Homo sapiens: one gene and its partners. Changing the gene in region 1 together with any one later gene gives a genetic interaction. Each region holds a gene or a part of one and is shown in the gene's direction. Other genes may lie near its edges.

What was found.
Region 2: changes in NUP54 (region 1) and NDUFB2 together harm fitness more than expected from each alone (negative genetic interaction), as found in Homo sapiens cells (one large-scale study listed by BioGRID).
Region 3: changes in NUP54 (region 1) and RNGTT together harm fitness more than expected from each alone (negative genetic interaction), as found in Homo sapiens cells (one large-scale study listed by BioGRID).
Region 4: changes in NUP54 (region 1) and NFYC together harm fitness more than expected from each alone (negative genetic interaction), as found in Homo sapiens cells (one large-scale study listed by BioGRID).
Region 5: changes in NUP54 (region 1) and TIMELESS together harm fitness more than expected from each alone (negative genetic interaction), as found in Homo sapiens cells (one large-scale study listed by BioGRID).
Region 6: changes in NUP54 (region 1) and GOLT1B together harm fitness more than expected from each alone (negative genetic interaction), as found in Homo sapiens cells (one large-scale study listed by BioGRID).
Region 7: changes in NUP54 (region 1) and GNL3L together harm fitness more than expected from each alone (negative genetic interaction), as found in Homo sapiens cells (one large-scale study listed by BioGRID).

What each region holds. Positions count from the first base shown.
Region 1 is NC_000004.12:76,131,398-76,134,897, reverse strand, and holds part of NUP54 (nucleoporin p54), read left to right. Parts: intron 1-535; coding exon 536-723; intron 724-2,178; coding exon 2,179-2,375; intron 2,376-3,500. UniProt on the Homo sapiens protein: Component of the nuclear pore complex, a complex required for the trafficking across the nuclear membrane.
Region 2 is NC_000007.14:140,703,208-140,706,707, forward strand, and holds the end of NDUFB2 (NADH dehydrogenase [ubiquinone] 1 beta subcomplex subunit 2, mitochondrial precursor), read left to right. Parts: intron 1-1,652; coding exon 1,653-1,727; 3' UTR 1,728-1,756; intron 1,757-3,355; 3' UTR 3,356-3,436; downstream 3,437-3,500. UniProt on the Homo sapiens protein: Accessory subunit of the mitochondrial membrane respiratory chain NADH dehydrogenase (Complex I), that is believed not to be involved in catalysis. Complex I functions in the transfer of electrons from NADH to the respiratory chain.
Region 3 is NC_000006.12:88,908,119-88,911,618, reverse strand, and holds part of RNGTT (mRNA-capping enzyme), read left to right. Parts: intron 1-3,500.
Region 4 is NC_000001.11:40,694,704-40,698,203, forward strand, and holds part of NFYC (nuclear transcription factor Y subunit gamma), read left to right. Parts: intron 1-902; exon of another isoform or gene 903-1,042; intron 1,043-3,500. UniProt on the Homo sapiens protein: Component of the sequence-specific heterotrimeric transcription factor (NF-Y) which specifically recognizes a 5'-CCAAT-3' box motif found in the promoters of its target genes.
Region 5 is NC_000012.12:56,421,927-56,425,426, reverse strand, and holds part of TIMELESS (protein timeless homolog), read left to right. Parts: intron 1-274; coding exon 275-412; intron 413-513; coding exon 514-665; intron 666-1,532; coding exon 1,533-1,630; intron 1,631-1,719; coding exon 1,720-1,843; intron 1,844-1,951; coding exon 1,952-2,153; intron 2,154-2,434; coding exon 2,435-2,580; intron 2,581-3,235; coding exon 3,236-3,321; intron 3,322-3,410; coding exon 3,411-3,500. UniProt on the Homo sapiens protein: Plays an important role in the control of DNA replication, maintenance of replication fork stability, maintenance of genome stability throughout normal DNA replication, DNA repair and in the regulation of the circadian clock.
Region 6 is NC_000012.12:21,508,289-21,511,788, forward strand, and holds part of GOLT1B (vesicle transport protein GOT1B), read left to right. Parts: intron 1-94; coding exon 95-273; intron 274-3,500. UniProt on the Homo sapiens protein: May be involved in fusion of ER-derived transport vesicles with the Golgi complex.
Region 7 is NC_000023.11:54,561,219-54,564,503, forward strand, and holds part of GNL3L (guanine nucleotide-binding protein-like 3-like protein), read left to right. Parts: 3' UTR 1-3,285.

The sequences.
Region 1 (3,500 bases):
GTACAATTGGGCAGAATAATCTAACATCAAGTCCATCTTATAATAATAATAATTTTATAATAAAAACTAAAAGATCAGAATTCCATGTATGGTTTACATGTATGTATATATGAATGCGTATTGCTTTCACACCCTATAAAATGGAAAAATCATAAGTTGAGAATCTGTATAGTGAAATAAATTATAATTAGTTGGTGATTTTTGCAGTCACTTTTATAATGACATGCAGATGGTTCAGAAACAACCAACAATAATGAATATCAAAATTTTTTAGGGGAGAAAGCTGTTTAGTTACTCTCTCAAAGAGGAAATGTTAATCTTACTCTATAGGTTAATGTTATTCCTGGGTAAAATAGTTTTTCTTTATAATTTTGTGACCTCCTAGGGCACAAAATGGTGGGAAGAATCATTATTCCCTTAATTACCAGACATTAAGTTGTTTTTCCCATTTTAGCAGATATTAAGCTATTAATATTAAACACCTGATTTAAGATCTGTACATATTTTTTATATTGTTTATTTTGTCATTCCACAGGCAGTAGGTTATAGTTGCATGCCCAGTAATAAAGATGAAGATGGGCTAGTGGTTTTAGTTTTCAACAAAAAAGAAACAGAGATTCGAAGCCAACAACAACAGTTGGTAGAATCATTGCATAAAGTTTTGGGAGGAAACCAGACCCTTACTGTAAATGTAGAGGGCACTAAAACATTGCCAGATGATCAGTAAGTATACATAAATATACTGTTTATTTCTGTGTATTTATTTCTGGTCCTAAGGGAGTGATCAATAATGTTTTTGTTGCTAAAGCACAAATTAACTCTCAGAGCAGAATGCCTTTTCTCAGCTAGTGATTATTCAGTATTGATAAAAACATTTATTTAAAAGTTTTTTTAAAATTTTGGATTTTTTAACTTACTAGATGCTAATAATTTTCTAGATTTTCATTCAGGCCAGGAAGGGACCATTTGTCATAGATGCGTGCAAATTGAGGGCCATAAAGATGTTATTGGAAAATGTTATTAACTCATTACTGTTCATGTTCATTCATGAATAAATATTATTGCTTTACTTCCCTTGACCTAAGTATAATTCTCAGTGTTAGTGGCAAGACATTTATTTTAGGATATTTGGAGGAATGATTATTAATGAGATGCAATAATTGAACAGATTTTACTTGTGGTTGTAATTGCAGAGAAGCAGCCCATAAATTTCAACAGAATTTCCTATAGTAAATAACATTTACATAGGATTTTGCAACTAAGCAAACCCTTTTATAAATATTATCTTATTGGCCGGGCACGGTGGCTCACGCCTGTAATCCCAGCACTTTGGGAGGCCGAGACGGGCGGATCATGAGGTCAGGAGATCGAGGCCATCCTGGCTGACACGGTGAAACCCTGTCTCTACTAAAAATACAAAAAAAATCAGCCGGGCGTGGTGGCAGGTGCCTGTAGTCCCAGCTACGAGGGAGGCTGAGGCAGGAGAGTGGCATGAACCCAGGAGGCGGAGCTTGCAGTGAGCCAAGATTGAGCCACTGAACTCCAGCCTGAGGGACAGAGAGAGACTCCGTCTCAAAAAAAAAAACAAATACTATCTTATTTACCTGGTTCTTTTTAACTTTATCATTTAGGTTGATTTGTAAATGAACATTACATGAAGTAAAACTTTCTTATTTTCCAAGATTTAAGAAGAAAACAGTTGGGCACAGCAGCTCATCATACCTGTAATCCCAGAACTTTGGGAGGTCAAGGTGGGAGGATTGCTTGAGACCAGGAGTTTGAGACTAGCCTAGGCAACATAGCGAGTGTCCGTCTCTCAAAAAAATTTAAAAATATATATATATATATATCATATATATTTATGTATAGACACACATACATGTAAGCTAAACGTAGCGGGTGTGCAGCTGTACTCTCAGTTACTTGGAGGCTGAGGTGGGAGAATTGCTTAAGCCTGGGACATTGAGGCTGCAGTGATGATACCACTGCACTCCAGCCTGGGCAACAGAGCAAACCTTGCTCAAAAAAAAAAAAAAAGGAAACATTTTAATTGCCTCCTAAAACAACCATTTCTGAATTCAACTTAAACCCTTCTGAAATCACATGCTATGATATGCTGAGGTTTGTCGCTATGAGTTTTGTGCTCCATATTTTATAAATTGGTTATTCTTCCTTCAGGACAGAAGTTGTTATTTATGTTGTTGAGCGTTCGCCAAATGGTACTTCAAGAAGAGTTCCAGCTACAACGCTATATGCCCATTTTGAACAAGCCAATATAAAAACACAATTGCAGCAACTTGGTGTAACCCTTTCTATGACTAGAACAGAACTTTCTCCTGCACAGATCAAACAGCTTTTACAGAATCCTCCTGCTGGTATGTTTCTAGAATCACAGAGTTCAAAAAAAAAGAAAGATTTAGAACTAAACACTCCCCGTATTTCAGAGGTGTTGGTTGGTTATTAATGCTAATAAAATTAGTATCATCTTGTCATATATCTACTTATTTGGGAAATAGTTTTGAATATTTGTATTCATTTAGTTTTTTATTATATAGCTAATATGTATATGTTAAAATAGAAATTTTGAGAAATAGTGAACTGAAGAAAAATAGTCCATAATCCATCTACCCAAAGGTAATTTACTAGTAAAATTTTGGCTTATTTTTTTCTAGCTTATCTCATTTTAACTGAATATTCAAGTAAAACCTGAATGTATTCTAACTGTAAAATATTCTGGATGGCATAACTAGATTGACTATGTGATAGATTACCTTTAGTTCCTTTCCCCGGAAGTAACTACTGTCAATTTATGGTACTATGTTTAATCCTTTATCTGTGATTTGAAATGTAAGCATATTTACATGTAGATCTTTTAAAAAAGGATTCTCCATATACACCTTCAGCTTGCCTTTTTACAGTATTCCTTAGCACTTTTCATGTCAATACATGAAGATAAATCTTACTGTATTTAAACATTGCATAGTATTCCATGGATACACCTTTACTTAACACCTCTAAGTTGTTTTCTTTTTACTATTATAAACTGTACAGTAATTAACAATATCCTTGTAAACATGTCTTAGAACACATTGGTATATATTTCTTTAGAATAGATCTCTGGTAATGAAATTTTTGAGTCAATATTATGTATGTTAGATATTGCCAAATTGCCCTCCAGGGAAAGTTCTACCGTTTATATTCATAACAGGAATGTTATTTTTTCTGGCCACTGATGGCAAAATAATTAATTTAAAAATTAATACTTATTTTTAATATGTTTATTAGCTACATTTATATTTTTTGTGAGTTACCTATTTGTGTCCTTTGCCCATTTTCTAGATTTTTTTGTCTTCCTTTTTGATGTATAGGAACTCTTTCTATATTCTGGAGGTTAATCTATTATCCTATAGGTTATAGATAGTTCCTTTCAATCTGTGCTTTTTTTGAACTTTATTTATTCTGCAAAAATTTGTATTTTTACCATGATTATATTTGACAGT
Region 2 (3,500 bases), on another chromosome or scaffold:
TATATTTAGGTGGTCCGTTTCTTATGGTTTCTGTTAGGTTGCCATCTTAGGGAGACTAAAAGCTCATTTTTTTTTTTTTTTTTTTTGAGACACAGTTTCACTCTGTCACCAGGCAGGAGTGCAGTGGCACAATCTCGGCTCGCTGCAACCTCTGCATCCCGGGTTCAAGTGACTCTGGTGCCTCAGTCCCTTGAGTAGCTGGGACTACAGGTGTGCACCCCCACGCCGGCTAATTTTTTTTGTTGTTAGTAGAGACGGGGTTTCACCATGTTGGTCAGGCTGCTCTCAAACTCCTGACCTCAAGTGATCCACCTGACTCAGCCTCCCAGAGTGCTGGGATCACAGGCGTGAGCCACCGCGCCTGGCCAGAAATGAATTCTTTTACCTTCTGAACTAGCGGTTCATTGGTAGGTTAGGTTTCACACTTAAATTCCTTTAAATGATGAATGTCTTCTGGTCTGTCCAGAGGCCCAGGGCAGCCAGGTTTGGGTGGGATGGATGTGAGTTAATTTGTCTTGAGAAGGGAAGTTAGTTTTAGTGATTTTCTATTTTATTTATTTATTTTTGAGATGGAGTCTCACTCTGTCACCCAGGCTGGAGTGCAGTGGTGCGATCTTGGCTCACTGCAAGCTCCGCCTCCTGGGTTCACGCCATTCTCTTGCCTCAGCCTCCCAAGTAGCTGGGACTGCAGGTGCCCGCCACCACTCCCGGCTAATTTTTTATATTTTTAGTAGAGACGGGGTTTCACCGTGTTAGCCAGGATGGTCTCGATCTCCTGACCTCATGATCCACCTGCCTTGGCCTCCCAAAGTGCTGGGATTACAGGCGTGAGCCACTGCGCCCGGCCAGTTTTAGTGATTTTCTAACATATCATTAGCCTCAACTGAGGTTTTACCACATTTGCAGACCGTTCTTTGGGAAATTACGTCTTTAAGACATTGAAATCTGTGCTTGTTTATCCAGGATACTTTGAGTTGTAGTAAATTTGGGTTTGTTTCCAGGATAGGAAAAAAATCTTAAGCAGTATGTAAGTTTTAGAAGCATCAGGTTGCTTCATATCCCATTTCTCTTAGAACTTCTCTGTGCCGTTGTCCTTCAGTAAGGAGCTGCCTGGGTGTCTGTGAACTGTCCACACATTTACTATTTGAGGTGCCCCTGCCTCACTGTAGGTCAGCTGTCCGGAGTATGTACAGTATGTATAGCTGTTAGGCCTGAGATGATGATGATGCAGCCAGATAAGCCCTTAGATCAGGATTGGAGATGAGGAAGTCCACCTGAGGCTTCTCCATTTCACAGCAGTAATGTTAGGAGAGTTGGAAACATATTTTGCCAGGACTTTGCCAGGATGTCAGGAACCTTTGAAACCTATTGCCTCCACTTCCCCCTACCCTCCCTCTATCACAGACACGTACCATTGGCTTAGGCTGGTACCTCCAAATGGGGAGGCTTTTAAAATTCAGACCAGAGCCCATATAATGAACAAACTAAAGAACAGGTGGGCCATCGAATAATTAAAGTAGAATTTGTTCCTGTGGTCAGGGGCTGAGCCATATTGTTTTTTTTTTTTTCTTTCCAAGATTTATTTAACAATTTAATTAGTTGCACAGAATGTAAATTCTTGACTTTTCTTTCTTTTAAATGGTTGTCACCAGGGTCACTTTCCGTATCCTGATCCTTCCCAGTGGACAGATGAAGAATTAGGTATCCCTCCTGATGATGAAGACTGAAGGTGTAGACTCAGCCTCACTCTGTACAAGTGGGTGTGCTCCAAATTTCTTTATGTCATATTTACCTTTTTTCATAAACATTAGTTTTTACTTTGTGCCTATGATGGACTTGAAAAAACTGCATATTCTAACAGCATGAAGTTGAGTTAACCATGTCCTGTATCTGCTTTTTTTTTTTTTTTTGAGACAGAGTCTTGCTCTGTCGCCCAGACTGGAGTGCAGTGGCGTGATCTGGGCTCACTGCAACCTCTGCCTTCCAGGTTCAAGTGATTCTCCTTCCTCAGCCTCCTGAGTAGCTGGGATTATAGGCACATGCTACCACACTTGGCTAATTTTTGTATTTTTAGTAGAGGCAGAGTTTTGCCACGTTGGCCAGGCTGGTCTCGAACTTCTGACCTCAAGTGATCTGCCCACCTCAGACTCCCAAAGTGCTAGGATTACAGGTGTGAGCCACCACGCCTGGCCATGTATCTGATTTCTGCCTTAAGTTTTCACATTTGCTTTGGTCTCTTCTTCCTTTTCATTGTATGTTTTATTTTATTTACATTTTTTATTTTGTAGAGACAGGGTGTCACTATGTTGCCCAGGCTGGTCTTGAACTCCTGGGCTCAAATGATTCTCCTGCCTCTGCCTCCCAAAGTGCTGGGATTACAGGCATGTGCCACCACACCTGGCCCATTGTATAATAAAAAAAAATTTTTTTCCTAAGTTAGGTTATAATTTTAGGGTTTCATTTATCCATCCACTGATCAAAGATATATTAAGACCAATTCTGTGCCAAGCACAGGCCTACAGTGGTGAACAGGACAGATGGAGCTTACAGTACGTAGCTGCAAAACTACAGTGTCCTGCTCTCAACATTTAAATAGATCCAGCATATGGGAGTATTACTATATAGAACTATATGAAAACTAACTCTTTAAACAGTAAAGGGTTATGGCTTTTTCATTTTCCAGGTCAGGAAGTCAAGAATTTTTCTTCTTTAAAAAGGGAGGTACTAAGAAGGTTCCCTTTCCTCATAAACCCCTAGGGGTTAATATGTTTTTATTTAACATGCTTTTATTTTATATTTTATTTTATTTTATTTTATTTTAGTTTGTTATGTTATGTTATGTTATGTTATGTTTTATGTTATGTTATGTTATGTTATGTTATGTTATGTTATGTTATGTTATTTGAGACAGGGTCTCATTCTGTCATCCAGACTGGAGTGCAGCGTGATCATGGCTCACTGTAACCCCAACCTCCTGAGCTCAAGTGATTCTCCCGCCTCAGCCTTCTCAGTAGCTGGGACTACTACTCTTGGCTAATTTTTGTATATTTTGTAGAGATGAGGTTTTGCCATGTTGCCCAGGCTGATCTCAAATTCTTGGACTCAAGTGATCCACCTCTTGGCTTCCCAAAGTGTTGGGATTACAGGTGTGAGCCAGTGTACCTGGCCAACAAATTTGTTTTAATGACTGGACTGTAAACCCTTGAGAGAGGAAGGGTGATTTTGCTTCTCTTGTCTACAAGGCTGTCACATGATCAGTGCTCAATAAATACTTGAATAATTGAATAAATGAATTATGGATTTGAATTAGTGAATATAAAAGTACTTAAAGCTTTCTACTTTTGTTTTCCTGCAGGAGCCAGGTGAGAATTTCAAGGATTATCGACTTCATATTGCACATTAAAGTTACAAATTAAAGTGGCTTGGTCAAGAATGAGAATGGAGTTGTGGATCTTTTTTTTGGGGGGGGGTGGGGTGGTGGAGAGGTGGTGGGAGGGGGG
Region 3 (3,500 bases), on another chromosome or scaffold:
TAATTGTGTGGTTTTGAGTGTTTATCTTGGTATTGATTTCTATTTTTATTTCACTGTGGTCCAAGCACATACTTGGCATGATTAAGATTAAAAAAAAATTTATTGAGACTTGCTTTAGTACCCATCTGGAAGTTCTTGTTTTATGAATCTGCGTGCTACAATATTGGGTGTATATACATTTAGGATAGTTAAGTCTTCTTGTTGAATTGAACTTTTTATCACGTAATGATCCTCTTTGTCCTTTTTTATTGCTGTTGGTTTAAAGTTTATTTATCTGAAACAAGAATAGCAACCCCTGCTCTTTTTTGTTTTTCATTTGCATGATAGATCTTTCTCCATCCCTTTACTTTGAGGCTGGGGGTATGAGTTAGTTTCCTGAAGATAGCAGAAGGATGGGTCTTTTTTTATTTTTTTCATTTTTAAATTCAACTTGCCACCCTGTGTCTTTTAAGTGGAGTGTTTAGACTGTTTACATTCAAGGTTAATGATACGTGAGATTTTTTTCCTGCGGTGGTGCTGTTGGCTGGTTGCTTTGTAGCCTTGATTGTGTAGTTGTTTTATAGGGTCTGTGGGCTGTGTACTTACGTGTATTTTTGTGGTAGCAGATACTGTTTTTGTTTCCATGTTTAGAACTCCCATAAGCATCTCTTGTAAGGCCAGTCTAGTGGTAACAGATTCCCTTAGCAATTGCTAATCCTGCAAAGATTTTATTTCTCCTTCGCTTATGAAGCTTAATTTGGTGGGATATGGAATTCTTGGCTGGAATTTCTCCTAGGATGCTAAATATAGGCCTCCAGTCTCTTCTGGCTTATAAGATTTCTACTGAGAAGTCTGCTGTTAGCCTGATGAGGTTCCCTTTATAGGTGATATGACTCTTTTTCTAGTTGTCTTTAAGATTTTTTCTTTTACATAGACCTTGGAAAGTCTGATGACTCTGCCTTGATGATGGTCGTTTTGTATAGTACCGTACAGGGGTTTTCTGAGTTTCTTATATTAGCATGTTGACCTGTCTAGCAACTTTGGAGACATTTTTGTGGATTATATTCTCAAATATGTCTTTCATGGTGCTTACTCTTTCTTCTTAGGAATATCGTGGGTTGTAGGTTTGGTCACTTTATGTAATCCTATTATTTCTCAGAGGCTTTGTTCATTTGTTGAAGATTCTTTTTCTTTATTTTTGTCTGACTCAGTTGCTTCAAAGGATTGGTCTTCAAGCTCTGAGATTCTTTCCTCTGCTTGGTTTAGTCTGTTGTTAAGCATCTCTTATAAGGCCGGTTGTTAAGATTTTTAATTGTATTTTGAAATTCCTGTGGTGAATTGAATTTCAGATTGGTTCTTCCTTAGTATAGCTATGTTATATTCCAAATCTTGGATTGTTTTTCTGACTTCCTTGGATTGGATTTCAACCTTCTCTTGGGTCTTGTTGAGCTTCCTTGCCATCCATATTCTGAATTCTGTGTCTATAATTTCAGACATTACGTTCTGGTTGGGATCCATTGCTAGGGAGTATATGCAATCCTTTGGAAATAACAAAACACTCTAACTTTTTGAATTGCCAGAGTTCTTGCACTGATTACTTCTCATCTGAGGGAACTGGTCCTTCTTTTTGTTTTTGAATTTGCTGTTGATTGAATGGGTTTTTTTTTTTTAAATATTCTTTTTTCCCTTGAGAGTTTGATGGTGGTAAATGTTGTGTATAGTCAGTTGGCTTCATTTCTGGGTGCTTTCAGAGGGCCAAGGCTCTGTATGAGTTCCTTGGTTGTAGATAGGTTTCTATGAGGGTTTCACAGGCTTTGCATGTTGAAGCAGTGTATTTTGTTTTGCTGTGTAATTCAAGCTGCAGTTGGTGCTTAAATATAAGGGCAGATAGGCTCTTACACAGCTGCGCATGCTCCCTTTGTATTTCATTGTGTCCTCAGCAGTGCTCTGGAGAGAGGACGCAGGGTAAGAGATGACTTTCTCTCATAGTCTGTTCTTAAGCCTTGGTGGTATCCCCCTCAGCTACTGGCACTGTCTCACGTTTCCTTTGCTCTGTGTGGGGCTTTGGTGGGCTTCTCTTCCTGCTCGCTTAGATATGATTCAAGCCAAGGGTTAGGCCACCAGGAGACCTGAAACTCCTTAGGGACCTACCAGTCCCCTGTGCTTGTCAGTAAGAGTGGGTTGTGGGGTATGTCTGCAGGTGGTCTGGTAATGCAGTGGGTCAAGCAAGGGTGGTAGATCCTCAGGCAGGGAAGTGGCACCGTATGTGTGTGTAGCCAGTATAGTGACCATGGCCCGGGTTTGCAGCCCAGCCGATGGCTGTGTGGCCCTCACAACTTGCACTCCCCTGACCTGGTTGGTCTCTGTCTGATGTCTGTCTCAGGAGCAGGCGCAACCAGACTGGCCAGGCTTGTCTCAAAAGCCCTGCGTGCCCAGTTCGTTGAGCCATTTCAGATGCTCCAAGCCACGGAGCTTCCTGGGGAAGAAACCTTGGCTGGCTGTCAGGCCACACCCATCCTGGACTGGTCTTCTGAAGAGAGGTTGCTTAGTTTCCATGCCACACTCTTCTCTGTATTCTGAGAGTGAAGGCTCCTTTCCTGCCCAAGCTCAGGCCACAGAGCTTAACTCAATACCCCTGGGCAGTGTGCTTGAGTCCTGGGGAAGTGGGACCAGGCCTGCACATTTGTCCTCTGGCCCCTTAGGATCAGCCAGCAGGCTGCCAGCAGAACACTCAGGCAGGGAAGTGGAGGCTGTTCTGTGGGCACTGTCTTGCAGGAGCAGCCAGGCAGGCAGTCTTTGAAGAGTTGGCAGGCAAAGGGGCATGTGGATCAGATACACTATGGTCCTATGGCAGTGGCAGTCTTACTCTCTTCGCCCTGCAGATAGCAGGACCTGCAGCCACTCAGTACAAGCTGGAGAGCCTTGGAGGATGGGCCCTATGGTGGTGTTTTGCTGCAGCTGCACCGTGGTCTGTGGGGCTCATGGCTAGAATCTTGTAGCTAGGATCCCAGAGGACCATGGTGGGAGTGTGGTGCCCCAGGGTTCCTTTACTCAGCCCTCCCTTAGGTCCACACTGGAACTGGGGGCCAGTCCTGGTGCCTAGTTACTCCAAGCAGTCTACGTCGCTTCTTCCCTCTTCAAACACTGTGTCTGCTTTGCCTCTCTATTGGCTTTCAGTGTTTTCTCTCAAAAGATCTGTTCAAAGTTGCAGGATTTTGTATTGTCAAGTTTTGGTGGTTCAAAGTGTGGTGGCTTACTTGATATTTTGGTTCCTTTTCATGGAAGAGGCGTTTTTCAGCTGTAGGTAGTTGGCCGTCTTGCCTAGAACTCTTTTTTATATTCTTAATGATGTCTTTCAAAGAGCAAACCCTTGCTATTTTGAAATAGTCTAATTTATCAGTATTTTTCTTCATTTTATGCTTTTTGTGTTTTATCTAAGAAACTTTTTCTACTCTAAGCTTGCAAAGATTTACTCCTGTATTTTCTTCTAGAAGTTTTGTAAATCTAGCTAGTTTATTTCT
Region 4 (3,500 bases), on another chromosome or scaffold:
ACCTTCATTCCATGTTAGCCCCTTATACCCATGGCCACCTTGTTAAGATCTGGAATTGACCACTCTAGAAATCTTGAACTCTCAGGAAATCTCAGTAGATCTGAGTTTATGTTGAAAACTTGTGAACCTCAGCTTTTTCTTCAGGCAGAAATCATACTAAGATTTATACTTTATAGGCTGTGTTCATGGCATCTTATTTAATTCTTATGACAAATCTGTTATCTCATTTATACTTACACATTTTTTTCTTTGGTCAGAACTACTAGAGACTGGGCGCAGTGGCTCACGCCTCTAATCCCAGCGTTTTGGGAGGCTGAGGCAGGTGGTATTTGAAGTCAGGAGTTTGAGACCAGCCTCGCACACATGATGAAACAAAATTACAAAAATTAGCCTGGCATGGTGGTGGGCGCCTGTAATCCCAGCTACTCGGAAGACTGAGGCAGGAGAATTGCTGGAACCCGGGAGGTAGAGGTTGCAGTGAGCTGAGATTGTGTCACTGCCCTCCAGTCTGGGCAACACAGCGAGACTCAGTCTCCCAAAAAATAAATAAAAATCCCAAAACTGTACTAGAGAAGATTTTACAAGGCATTTTTATCCCCTTTTATTTTCAGAGAAATGAAGGCAAAGCGAAATGAGGATTCATACCACAGAATTGTAAACATATATGGGCTAAACCCATTCTGTGCTATGGAGCTATGCTGGGAGTCTTGTTTTGGGTTTTGTTTTGTTTTGTTTTTTGAGAGTTTTACTCTGTCACTCAGGCTGGAGTTGCAGTGGTGTGATCTTGGCTTACTGCAACCTCTGTCTCCCGGGTTCAAGCGATTCTCCTGCCTCAGCCTCCCGAGTAGCTGGGATTACAGGTGTGCACCACAACACCCAGCTAATTTTTGTATTTTTAGTAGACACGGGCTTCCACCATGTTAGCCAGGCTGGTCTTCAACTCCTGACCTCAGGTGATCCACCCACCTCGGCCTCCCAAAGTGCTGGGATTATAGGCGTGAGCCACCGTGCCCAGCCAGGCTATGCTGGGTGTCTTTTTGAGGTAATTTTGAAATTTATATCTTTTAGTTCAAAAGTACTGAGCCACTAGGATCTGTGAATCAAACACAGGGATAATATAGTTACTACTTTTATTGAGTGCTTGCTTACATTGTACCAGCTGGGATATAAATGTATTATGTATATTTATTCTCATACACTATGAGGTAGATAATATAGCCACCCTCATTTTTACGTGTGAGGAAACTGAAAAGTAATTTGCTTAAGTTCTCACAGCCAGTAAGTAGCAGAGCCCAGATTCAGACACGGATTTGTAATTCTGTTTTTTTTTTTTTTTTGAGATAGAGTCTCGCACTGTTTCCCCAGACTGGAGTGCAATGGCGCGATCTTGGCTCACTGCAACCTCTGCCTCCCAGGTTCAAGCGATTCTCTTGCCTCAGCCTCCTGAGTAGCTGGGATTATAGACGCCCGCCACCATGCCTGGCTAATTTTTTGTATTTTTAGTAGAGACGGGGTTTCACTGTGTTGGCCAGGCTGGTCTCAAACTCCTGACCTCGTGATCCGCCCTCTTCGGCCTCCTGAAGTGGTGGGATTACAGGTGTTAGCCACAGTGCTCAGCCACAGATTTGTAATTCTTAATTCTTATGTAAATGAAGCCCTTACTCTTAAACACTGTGTTGACACCATAGAATGTTATGGGAAAAGAAAAAAAGTCCTGGCTTCTTAGCTCAGGAAGCGAACTTCAGTTCTTTCAGGCGTGTCCTTTGTACTGAGGCTCCAAAAGAGTGAGATGACCTTGACAGGGTCACTTGGCTATGCAAGGGCAGAGCCAAATCTTGCCCAGATCACTGGATTTCCAGATAGGTGCTCATTCCACTGGATAGCATTGCCTCTCCTGTGGACGCATTGACTTGATGGCAGAGATGACTTTAAGTGACAGGTTTACTTCATTCACCGGAATGAGAATGGCAGAGGACATTACTAGGGTCACAAATGACCTTCTTAAGGTCAATCCTGGCCTCAGGCATACAACCAGGAAGAATATTCCTTTGCCAGTAAGTTGTTCTTTTCCATTCTGTTTCTTGTTCTCAGAGGAAACTGGTTGTGAGTTATCTGATGTCTTACAGTCTTTCTTTTCATTTTGTTTATTCAGTTTTTCATGCATGCACTGTCACAGTTTAGGAAGGCTACAAGGTCATTTTAGTGTTTTCCTGCAGAGACTCAAAGCACTCAATATAATGTAAGTAGATTAATTGCAGGAGGAAATGGATTTTTAAAACTTTGGCCAAAAAGTGCCTATGGGAGAGGACAGTATTAGTTGCTGATTGGAGTCAGACCAAGGGAAGAGTTCTGTCTCTGCAGTGCATTTACCCTCTGTGCTGGAGCAGGTTCTTAACTTGTTTCTTCTTCTGTAAAATAACGACAATAATACCTACCTGTAGGGTAATTATGAGAAATGAATATAATAGCGTGTGGTAGATGCCTATCACTTAGTGGACCTTAATAAGTGGGAGAACACATTTTCATTTTGGAACAGCATGAAATCTGTCCTTTCAGCCCGTTACAGCTTCCTTGATGAGGAGGGGTGAGGCCTTTTGTAATTGTCTGCTCTGCAATATACAGTAAGATTTCCAAATGGGAGAGCAACCACTTGACATGAAGTAACCTAATTTAGTTGTGCTGTTGTGGTTTAGGAGCTGATTTTCAGTGGACCAGTGTGAGGTCAGTCTTACTTTTGAATGCACAAAGTAGTAGGATCATTTGTTTCAGGGAAAGATTGTTTCCTGATCTCTTTTGTTCATCCCCAAGTGTTGAGTGGTAATGATTGCGATGCGATGAAAACTTCTTCATATTTGACAAATAGCAATGATGATTAAATTCGGAACAACTGGTGTTTTCATTCTGACCAGAAGGAGAGATTTCCATTATAGTCATTTAAAATTTTTCTAACTGTACAAATTATCAGTTGAAGTAGGACCGTTGGTTTGGTTTGTGTGATTTGTAGTCACTTGAGTAACGTTTTCTTTGAAGTAAGCAGTTAGACAGTATTGTGGAATGGTTCAGGAAAAATCTCTCTGCCTGCAGAAAATTTTGCTAGGTTGCAGGAATTGTTGCACCCTTCCCACACTTCTCCATGTGTTAGCAGTGATGTACCTGATAGCAGTGAGACAGCACCTGTACTCATTTTCAGTATTGGAGTTGTATTTTCCATTTTGTTATTTTCAGATCTCCAGATAGATTACTTCTACATCCAGTACTTCATGAGAGCTTTCTATTGTATAAACTTGTAGTTTAAAGAGTGGAACTAGAGTCTAATCTTTGCATTTGAATGTTTCCAGTAGAATACGTTTAAAATAAAGGTTGAAATATCCATGTCTGGTCAGGCACAGTGGCTCACGCCTGTAATCCCAGCACTTTGGGAGGACGAGGCTGGCAGATCACCTGAAGTCAAGAGTTTGTGACCAGCCTGGCCAATATGGTGAAACTCCGTTTCTACTAAA
Region 5 (3,500 bases), on another chromosome or scaffold:
GGAGTTTTGCCATGACATCTTATGCTCACTCACATTATAGCTTTTATCCACACTCTAGTGTAATTACCTTTCTACTTCCTGTCTCCACCACTAGAGTAAAAGCTCCTCAAAGGGAAGGAAATATGCTGTTCACTATTGCTTTCTATTACCGATGGATAGCAGATAATGGGCACTCTGTGAATGTCCAGTTAATTAGTTTTGTAATAGAAAAGACACTGATGGGGAAAGCCCTCTTTAGCTCTCTTGACATCCTAATACAATTCTTTCCCCACAGAACAAACAAAAGAAGAGAAGGAAGAAGAAGAAGAAGGTCCTAGACCAGGCCATTGTTTCTGGTAATGTCCCATCTAGCCCAGAAGAAGTGGAGGCTGTGTGGCCAGCCCTGGCTGAGCAGCTACAGTGCTGTGCCCAGGTAGGTGGTTACAGAAACCCTGTCTTTTTTGAGAATAGTGCTCAGGGTATACAATCTGGGTTTTCCACTCCCTCCGCTCCCATAGCTTTATCCATCTCTAGAATTCTGAGCTCAGCATGGACTCCGTGGTTCCCTTTGATGCGGCCTCAGAGGTGCCAGTGGAGGAGCAGCGGGCAGAAGCTATGGTACGGATCCAAGACTGTCTCCTGGCTGGCCAGGCCCCACAGGCCCTGACTCTCCTGAGGTCTGCTCGGTAAGAACCCTGCCTGCTCATCCTCTTGGGCTTTGGGGGAAGGAGGAGGCCATCACTGCGGTACAGTGTTCTCAGTCTTCAAAAGAGAGTTGTCTCATCAAGGCTCTGGGACTGTATACCAACTGACTCCTGGGGCGTTTTGATTGGTTTGTTGGGTTTTTTTGTTTCTGAAAAACATTAAAAAAGCATAGTTAATTGAGAAAAAAATAAAGAAAGCAAATCCTCACTTGACATCATCAATAAGTCCTTGGTAATTGCAGCTTTGAGTAAAATGACCTACGGCATGTTTCTTATAACGTTAAGAGAAAAAAAACTGGTTTTGTTATACATTGTTTCACTTAAAGTGGCAGTATCCAAGAACCTATTGAAGACATTAAGGGCGGACTTAACTTTAATTCTAGTAGCCAAAGATATGCATCATTAACATTTTGATGAGTAACCATCCAGAGGTTTTTTTGCTCCGTTACATGTAAAAATATCGTATATACCTTGTTTTACAAAAATGAAATACTGTACATGCTGATTTATAGTAATTTTTCACTTCTCAGTATATTATGAGCATGATTTCTCATCAGATATATTTCTGTAATTGTTAATGGCTTTAAAACACCATTGTGTGAATATGTACATTTGTTCAACCAGGTGTCAAACATTTAGATTGTTTGCATTTTGTTCTTAGCTGGTTTTTATTGAATTGTGGCTTATGAGGAAAATTTTCCCTGGAGTCTTTGTTTCATTTGAGGTAACAGTTTGCATTCTGTTTCTGGCCAACAAAAGAAATAAGTCTAAATTCCTTCTTCTACTTCGAATTATAAATTTAAAGCCAGATTTCCCCTGGGTAAAGCCTTTTTTCTATCTGTGCTCCAGGGAGGTGTGGCCTGAAGGAGATGTGTTTGGCTCTCAAGACATTTCTCCAGAGGAAGAGATCCAGTTGCTGAAACAAATCCTCTCTGCTCCACTTCCCCGTGAGTCTCCACCCTTCACATCTGTCTCCTTCCAGCTCTTTTCTAGCACCAACATAACAGAGACTCAGTAATCCTCCCTCTGTCTATAGGGCAGCAGGGCCCAGAGGAACGTGGGGCAGAGGAAGAAGAAGAGGAGGAGGAGGAGGAAGAGGAGGAGTTGCAAGTGGTCCAGGTGTCGGAGAAAGAATTTAATTTTCTGGACTACCTGAAACGGTGCGGGCTGAGAGGCCTGAGTTGGTCCTAGAGTGGCGATTGTGCGGCTGTGAGGATGAGCTATGTCTTCCTTATGCTGACATCCTCTCCCTCCTTGTTTTGGTGCAGCTTTGCATGTTCAACTGTCGTTCGAGCCTATGTGCTGCTACTAAGGAGCTACCAGCAGAATAGTGCCCACACTAACCATTGCATTGTGAAGATGCTGCACCGGCTGGCCCATGACCTCAAAATGGAAGCCCTACTTTTTCAGCTGTCAGTCTTCTGCCTCTTCAATCGTCTGCTTAGTGACCCTGCTGCTGGAGCCTACAAAGTGAGGGGATAACAAGGAATGGGGTTCTGGAAGGGTATGGGAACCCTCAGGTAAATAAATAATCTTCAGGAGATAGAAGGTGCTGAGAGGTGTCAAGGGCTGGGAGATGGGAAAACAATGAGAAAGTAGACAGGCAGGTTGAGGGAGCTGCATGGAGAAGGACAGAAGAGAGTGAGTGAGGAGGGGGCAGCTGGGAACAGCTATAGAGAAAATACCTAGAGGGCCAGGTTCGGGTCTGCATTGGACCAGAGAGGCCTCATAGTAACCTCCTTCTCCTACAGGAGCTAGTGACTTTTGCCAAATACATCCTGGGCAAATTTTTTGCACTGGCTGCAGTCAACCAAAAAGCCTTTGTGGAGCTGTTGTTCTGGAAGAACACAGCTGTGGTTCGAGAGATGACTGAGGGCTATGGCTCCCTGGATGACAGGTGAGCTTGAAGTTGGCAAAGGGTGGGTGGGGGTAGGGGAAGTTTGATGCAGAGTCACAGAATGTCAAAGCTGTTAAGAGCTTGCATGTCATTTAGCCCACTGTTTCTTTCCCTATTATGGGTGAGAGAACAGGCTCAGGAGGTGAAATGCTTTACCTAAAGTTATCCAAGAGAGGAGCAGGGACTGGAGCCTAAGTCTAGTGTGTATCTAGTTTCCTTCTCCATCACCAGCCTCCATAGAGGTAGTCACTGTTGGGAGCTGGGTGGTTGCCCAGAGGGAGTCTGTGTGCGACCTCTCCCAAAATGTGCTGGGAAACCATGAGGATTTGTAGAAATGTTTGTCCTCTTTCCCTTAGTATCTCAGCCCCTCTCCTTTCACACTTAGTCTCTTTTTCCCATAATATTCTCAGTCCCTAGAGTCAGAATGGTCAGGGTTCCATTGGCCCAACCTGGAAAATCTCTTAGTTTGACTTTTAGGTTCTTACGTGGAAGGAAAGTGAGGGGAAGGAGGCACACTGTAGGCCTCTGCTGGCTGGCCTCTTTCAGTTACCTGCCTTGTCCTTCCTGTTCTTTTCAGAACTGATCAGAGAAGGCCTTTGGTCTCCTCTTTTTGGGCCAAGAACCTATATGCTCCCTTTCTCCTTTCACCATTCAGGTCTTCCAGTCGCAGAGCACCTACATGGAGCCCCGAAGAAGAGGCTCATCTTCGGGAGCTGTACCTCGCCAATAAGGACGTGGAAGGTGAGAGGCCTTGGGATCTGGAGAGTTTATGAGGAGGGCAGCTTGAGCTGTGGGACCTTCTTTACTGCCTTAGTCCTTCCCCACGCCAGGGCAGGATGTGGTGGAAGCCATCTTGGCCCACCTGAATACTGTTCCTCGAACACGCAAGCAGATCATCCACCATCTGGTACAGATGGGAC
Region 6 (3,500 bases), on another chromosome or scaffold:
GCTTCTTTTTTTATATTTAGCTTTGACTTTACGTTTAAAATTTATGCATTGTGTTTAATTACCTTTTCCGTGTTGTATTTTCTTTCTCTTTTAGGTTTTATTTGTAGCCGGCTTGGCTTTTGTAATTGGTTTAGAAAGAACATTCAGATTCTTCTTCCAAAAACATAAAATGAAAGCTACAGGTTTTTTTCTGGGTGGTGTATTTGTAGTCCTTATTGGTTGGCCTTTGATAGGCATGATCTTCGAAATTTATGGATTTTTTCTCTTGTTCAGGTAAGGCATATTATTGTCTCTTTCAGTAAATCAGTGTGTCAGATAGTTAGTACAAAAACTCAGATATTTGCATCAGTTGGAGTAAGATGATGATCATTTCCTTAAATGGAATTTTATTTAGGTTGAATCTTATAGATTTAGATGAAGCAACTATAAAAATGTTTTATCACATGTGAATGATTGCCTAATGGTATAAATTATCTTGTTTTGTCAGCACAATAAAGTTTATTTTATTGGCATTTTAAGGCACCATCTTTATGTTGGATATTTGTATCAACTAAATAGTGGTAGGTAGGTCGGTCGATCGATCAATCGGTAGGTAGGTAGGTAGATAGATAGATAGATAGATAGATAGATAGATCCAGCATTTTGGTGTGTAGAATCTTATACTTCATAGCTACTGCTACTTGATGGAAATTTATTTAGCACATATACGTATTAGAAGATTGTTTACCAAATACACTACTATGGGAGATTTTGAGCAGGTAATATTTTGTAAATGCCAGTTAGCAGATAAACAATAGTATGTGTATATATCTATATGAAAATACCTTTGGCCAGGTGCGGTGGCTCACACCTGTAATCCCAGCACTTTGGGAGGCCGAGGTGGGCGGATCACCTGAGGTCAGGAGGTCAAGACCAGCCTGGCCAGCATGATGAAACCCCGTCTCTACTAAAAATTCAAAAATTAGCTGGCCATGCTGGCAGGCGCCTGTAATCCTAGCTACTCGGGAGGCTGAGGCAGGCGAATTGTTTGAACCTGGGAGGCGGAAGTTGCAGTGAGCCGATCACACCATTGCACTCCAGCCTAGGCAATAGAGCGAGACTCTGTCTCAAAAAAAAAAAAAAAAAAAAAAAAAAAACAGAAAAGAAAATAACTTTAAGTAGGGTTGAGCTTAATTATTTATTCCAGAAATGCATATCCTTTGTCTTCTGTCTGCCAGGCACTGTATTACCCACAGGAGACATAAAAATAAATTAAGTACCAAATCTGCTTTAGAAAATCTCTCATTTCTATTATGGAAAGTAGACTCTAAAAATACCAATAGGATATAGTCATAATGCCATTATAAATGTGTATGCAGAATATTGTGGAAGCATGATTAAAAAATTAGTAAATTCAAGGAGAGGTGAGAAATGTTAACTGATAAACTGGGCTTTGAAGAATGGGTAAGAATTTATCCTATAAACGAGAAAGGGAACGACAGTTAACAGAAGGAACAGACAGGGCCATAAAAACACACAGCTTGTTCTGAAAAGAATGAATACTCTTATAGAACAGGAGCATGTGATCAGTTGAAGGAAATGGTTGGTAATGAAACTGAAAATGAAGCCTGGAGCCAGGTTACAAACTTTCTTTGATGACTTGTTGAGAAAAGTATACCTTATCCTGTAACCAAATTTGGGCTGGGGGAGCAGTGTTTGGAGAAGGTCGGGGGAGTGGGGCACAGAGGTTTTTAAGCCAGAGGTGGTACAACAGGGTAGATGTTTTAGGAAGGTTGTTCTGATATCAGGATAAAGTAGGTATTAAAGAGAAAAACTGAAGTCAGGGGAGCCAGTCAAGAGGCGGTTAATACAGTACAGAATATACAGTGATAAGACTGGAATCTTGGAGTACTTTTGACATTTTAGGGTAGGTGGAGAAAAAGAAGAAAACACTAGAAGAGACTAGGAAAAGAGGTGGGAGAAGAACTAGGAGTAAAGATCATAGTGGCTAAGAGAGAAAAGAGTGAAGAAGAGTTTGTTTTGGCAGATGTATCTTGCAGCAGAAAACTTAAGCACCTTAAGAAGTAAGAAAATCATTGGCTTTCCCAGTTATGTGGGGGTTTTAGTAATGAAGGTTAAAAGCCAAAGCTGATCTTTGAGATGAATAAAAAATGGGAAGTCTTAGTATCATCGACAAGCTTGGAGTAATACACAGGTTTCGTGGTTTAGAGAGCTTTGTGGTATAAATACTAGTTTTTGTTGTTGGGTTTTGTTGTGTTCTGAGATATTCTGAGCTGGAGATTTAGTGCCAAGGGTCTTTGATGTTGTTTTTCTAGATATTTATAACCCTAAATAATGGCATTTGAAATCACACATTTTTATGTTTTAAAACAATACTTAAAACAAAATAAATGATCTTTTGAATTCATTACTACTAGAAAATGATTGTGATTTTCTTTGAAACACGCACATACACCATCAACATAAATACTTGTCTAATTTAAAAATTCTGCTTTCTGTTTAATTCTTTATTTTGACTTCTGCAGATCCATAACAGAATCTTATTGCTTAACTTCTGAATTGTATTCATTGTAGTATTTTCATCCCTATCTAACTCTGTGAAGAAAACAGCTTTTTTTCTGTACTCGTCTTACCACAATCAACACAGAAGACTGCTGTGACCAAATGGGTGGGGGGTTTTCCCGATATCGCAATCAGTTAGTTGTCTGCAACAGACAACAGCTGGGTGTCCTCCCAATATAGTTCTGATACTGTCTACATGGAGATAGCTCCAGATCACACAGGTTGAGGGCTCAGTCCCACAACTGTCCTCCACTCCCAATGATGCCAGCCACAAGCCCCAGGTTGTTTTACCCATGCTTCTGACTGATCAGCTCTAAGTTGGGGTTCCCACGATCCCCTGTTTGGATCAGACTAATTTACTAGAGAGGCTCACAGAGCTCAAGGAAACACTGATGTTTACTAGTTTATTATAAAGGATATTACAAAGGATACAAATAAAGAGATGCATAGGGCAAGGAAAGGGGGGAGGGTCGCAGATCCCCCCCCACCCTCCCCAACCCACCATCCTCCAAGAACATCCTTGTGTTCAGCTATCCGGAAGCTCCCTGAACACTGTCCTTTTGGGTTTTTATGGAGGCTTCATTACTAGGCATGATTGATTAAATTATTGGCCATGAGTGACCAGCTTCACAGCCCCCCTCCCCTTCGTGGAGGTTAGGAGGTAGGGCTCAGATTTCCAGCCCTCTAATCTTGCCTTGGTCTTTCTGGTGACCAGCCCCCATCCTGAAGCTGCCTAGGGGCTGCCAACCATTGATGATAACTCATTAGTATACAAAAAGACATCACCTTGTAGAGACTCTTAAGTATTTTAGGAGTTGTAAGCCAGAAAATGAGGTCAAAGACCAAATATATATTTCACAGTATCACTACATATTTTAAGACCCAGGAAAAGTTTAGTTTCTTTGCATTTTTAAAATAAACTATTTCATTCTCTTCCT
Region 7 (3,285 bases), on another chromosome or scaffold:
ACTCTGCCTACAAAACTCTCTTAGACAGGTGAATATGCCACTAGAAGTTAGGTTGCTGGTAGACCTGGGGGTCCCTGCGGGAGGGTGATGGTTTCTTTACCACCCCACAGGAGATTTCAGTGGCAAGGCATGCCTGCAGTGGGCTTTGGGCCATGCATCTTCCAAGTCCATAGGTCTTCACCTGGGTGGCAGTGAGAAAAAGTAGAAAGTAATGAGCCTCCTGTGTCTCTGGAAGGTTCTAGGGATAGGGTAGAGGGAAGAAGAGAACAAACAAGCCTGGCTTGTGCTGAAGTGTGGTAGGCACTACCCTGTTTGCGTGAAGAGAAAACAAAGCACCTGTTAGTAGGGAGGCTTTAGGGGGAAGCCCCGTCTTGGGGGCATTTCTGGGCAGATTGTGAATTGGAGGAATCTCTTTAACTGAAGTACTCTGGCTGGACCCTGCCCTTGTGTGACCATGTCTCCTATTGCACCAGCATTTGAATTCCATGGCTCAAGAGGGTTCTGGTACCATTTATTCACAGACTGTATCCTCGAGAGAGCTGCTATATATGGGAGTGTACCAGCCAACTCCTTTTCCAGTGTCTGTAAGTCACCTCATTAAAGTATAATTAGCTGTCTCCTCTGGGAGATCCTACCCCATCAGACAAGGGCAGTGAGCCCAAGCAGTGCCAGAGGCCCTCAGAAAGGGATTAGGGTAGATGATTGCAACTGAAACACAATCTTCTTTCTTTGCCAGGGTATTTTGGGGGTTTTGCCCCAAAATATACCCTGGGCATAGCATTACTGCAGTCTTGGATGTCTACCCCAAACTTCCACACCATCCTTCGACCCACAGCTGCACCTTTATTTATTTATTTTGCTCTGTTGCCCAGGCTGGAGTGCAATGGCGTGATCTCGGCTCACTGCAACCTCTGCCTCCCGGGTTCAAGTGATCCTCCTGCCTTAGCCTCCCAAGTAGCTGGGATTACAGGCACCTGCCACCACGCCTGGCTAGTTTTTGTATTTTTAGTAGAGACGATGTTTCACCATGTTGACCAGGCTGGTCTCGAACTCTTGACCTCAAGTGATCCACTCGCTTCGGCCTCCCAAAGTGCTGGGATTATAGGCGTGAGCCACTGTGCCCAGCCTCACAGCTGCATCTTAACCTTACCTTTGCCTCTGCCTCTCAAGCTGGTACCTCCTAATTTACATCCTAAGAGTGGAACCATGTGACAAGGACTGGAGTGCCATTGGCTGTGGACTGTTCAGGCAGGGAAGTACAAGACCACTCTTGTATTCAGGGGCAACCAAAGGAGAGAATTACGTACTTGTTGAGTACAAACTGCACCAAGCCCTGGAGACCCATTACCACCGTTAACCCTCAATACAGCTCTGCTAGTAAGGGATTCGTCTCCCCAAATGAAAAAAAAAAGTAATCTCAGAATGTTGGCCGAGCATGGTGGCTCACACCTGTAATCCCAGTTATGCAGGAGGCTGAGGCAGGAGAATCACTTGATCTCAGGAGGCGGAGGTTGCAGTGAGTCGACATCACACCACTGCACTCCAGCCTGGGGGACAGAGTGAGACTTCGTCTCGGAAAAAAAAAAAAAAAGTTGACAGGATGGCCAGACCCAAGTGGGCGTATTAAGTGGTGGTGCTAGGATTGGAACCCAAGCGTGATTAAAACCCTATGCAGGCCCTTTCCTCTATATTGTACTGCCTCCTTAACAAAGGAAGATTGATTAAGCCCCTACTTTGTGCCAGTCTCTGTTATCAAGTCCGTTAAATGCATTTAACGTTAAATTTTTTCTTTTTTGGTTTAAAAAACTCTAGTTTCTTAAACTACTAGTTTTTAGTGTCTTGCTAAAACTATGTGCTCTTGAATAGGCTACAACTTATTTCACACTATCTCATTGAACTCTCCTGGTATGTGATAGTGTTATAATGAAAAATTGCATACCAGGACAGCTAAGTCTATTTTGCAACCATACAGCGTTTCATAATTTAGCATTTAAAATACAGACAGTCCCCGACTTTTGGTGGTTTGATGTGGGATTTTTGGTGGAAAAGCAGTATACATTCAGAATGCACCTCTACTTATGATGGGGCTACTTCCTGGTAAACCCATTGTAATGTGCAAATTACGGGTTTATCAGGAGGTGACCCCATCGGTAATGGAGAAGTGCTGGGAGGTAAATATTAGAAATGGAAGTATCTAAATGAGTAAGAAACAGCATGGGAGCATAATTTGGCCAAAATCAAACAGAACTAAAGTAGTCATGTCGGTAAGAATTTGGGACTGCAGGCCAGTTACGATAGCTCTCACCTGTAATCCCAGCATTTTGGGAGGCCGAGGCAGGCGGATCACTTGAGGTCAGGAGTTCAAGACCAGCCTAAACAATATGGCGAAACCTCATCTCTACCAAAAAAATACAAAGATTAGCTGGGCATGGTGTCTCATGCCTGTAGTCCCAGCTACCTATGGGGCTGAGGCAGGAGGATCTCTTGAGCCCAGGAGGTCGATGCTGCATTGAGCCGAGATTGTGCCACTGCTCTCCAGCGTGGGCAACAGAGTGAGACTGTCTCAGGGGGAAAAAAAAAGAGGAAAACAAAAAAGACGTTGGGAGTGCAGTTTCTCTACCTACAGCATATCTCAAAGGTTTTTTTTAAAAAAGTATTTTCTTAACTTTTTACCTTCATTTTTCAAAACAATTAGGGTACAATTTACATATAGTAAAGTTCACTCTTTATAGTTTTAGTTATGTGAGTTTGTACAAACATATACAGGAGTGAACCACTACCACAATCGAAATATAGTTGCATCACCCCCCTAAAACTCTCCAGGCCCTTTTGTAGTCAACTCCTACCCCCGACCCTCAGATTCTGCTAACCACTGATTTGTTTTCTGCCCCTATAGTTTTGCTTTAGTATGACTGTCATATCAATAGAATCATACAATGAGTAGGCTTATTTTATGCCTTCAGGTTTTAAAAATTATAAACATTTACATTACAGTAAAATTCACTCTGGTATACAGTTCTATAAAGCTCTGATAAATGTGTAGAGTTGTGTAACCACCAATGCAACCAAGGTACAGAACAGTCCTCTTAGCCTCTCCCTACCAAATTTATTCCTGCTACTTTGTAGTCAAAACCAGTCCCCTACACCCAAACCCTGGCAGTCACTGGTTTTTTTCTTCGTTCTCTTTTTTTTTTTTTTTTTTTTGAGACAGAGTCTAGCTCTGTTGTCCAGGCTGGAGTGGTGCAGTGGCGTGATCTCGGTTCACTGCAACCTCCGCCTCCAGGG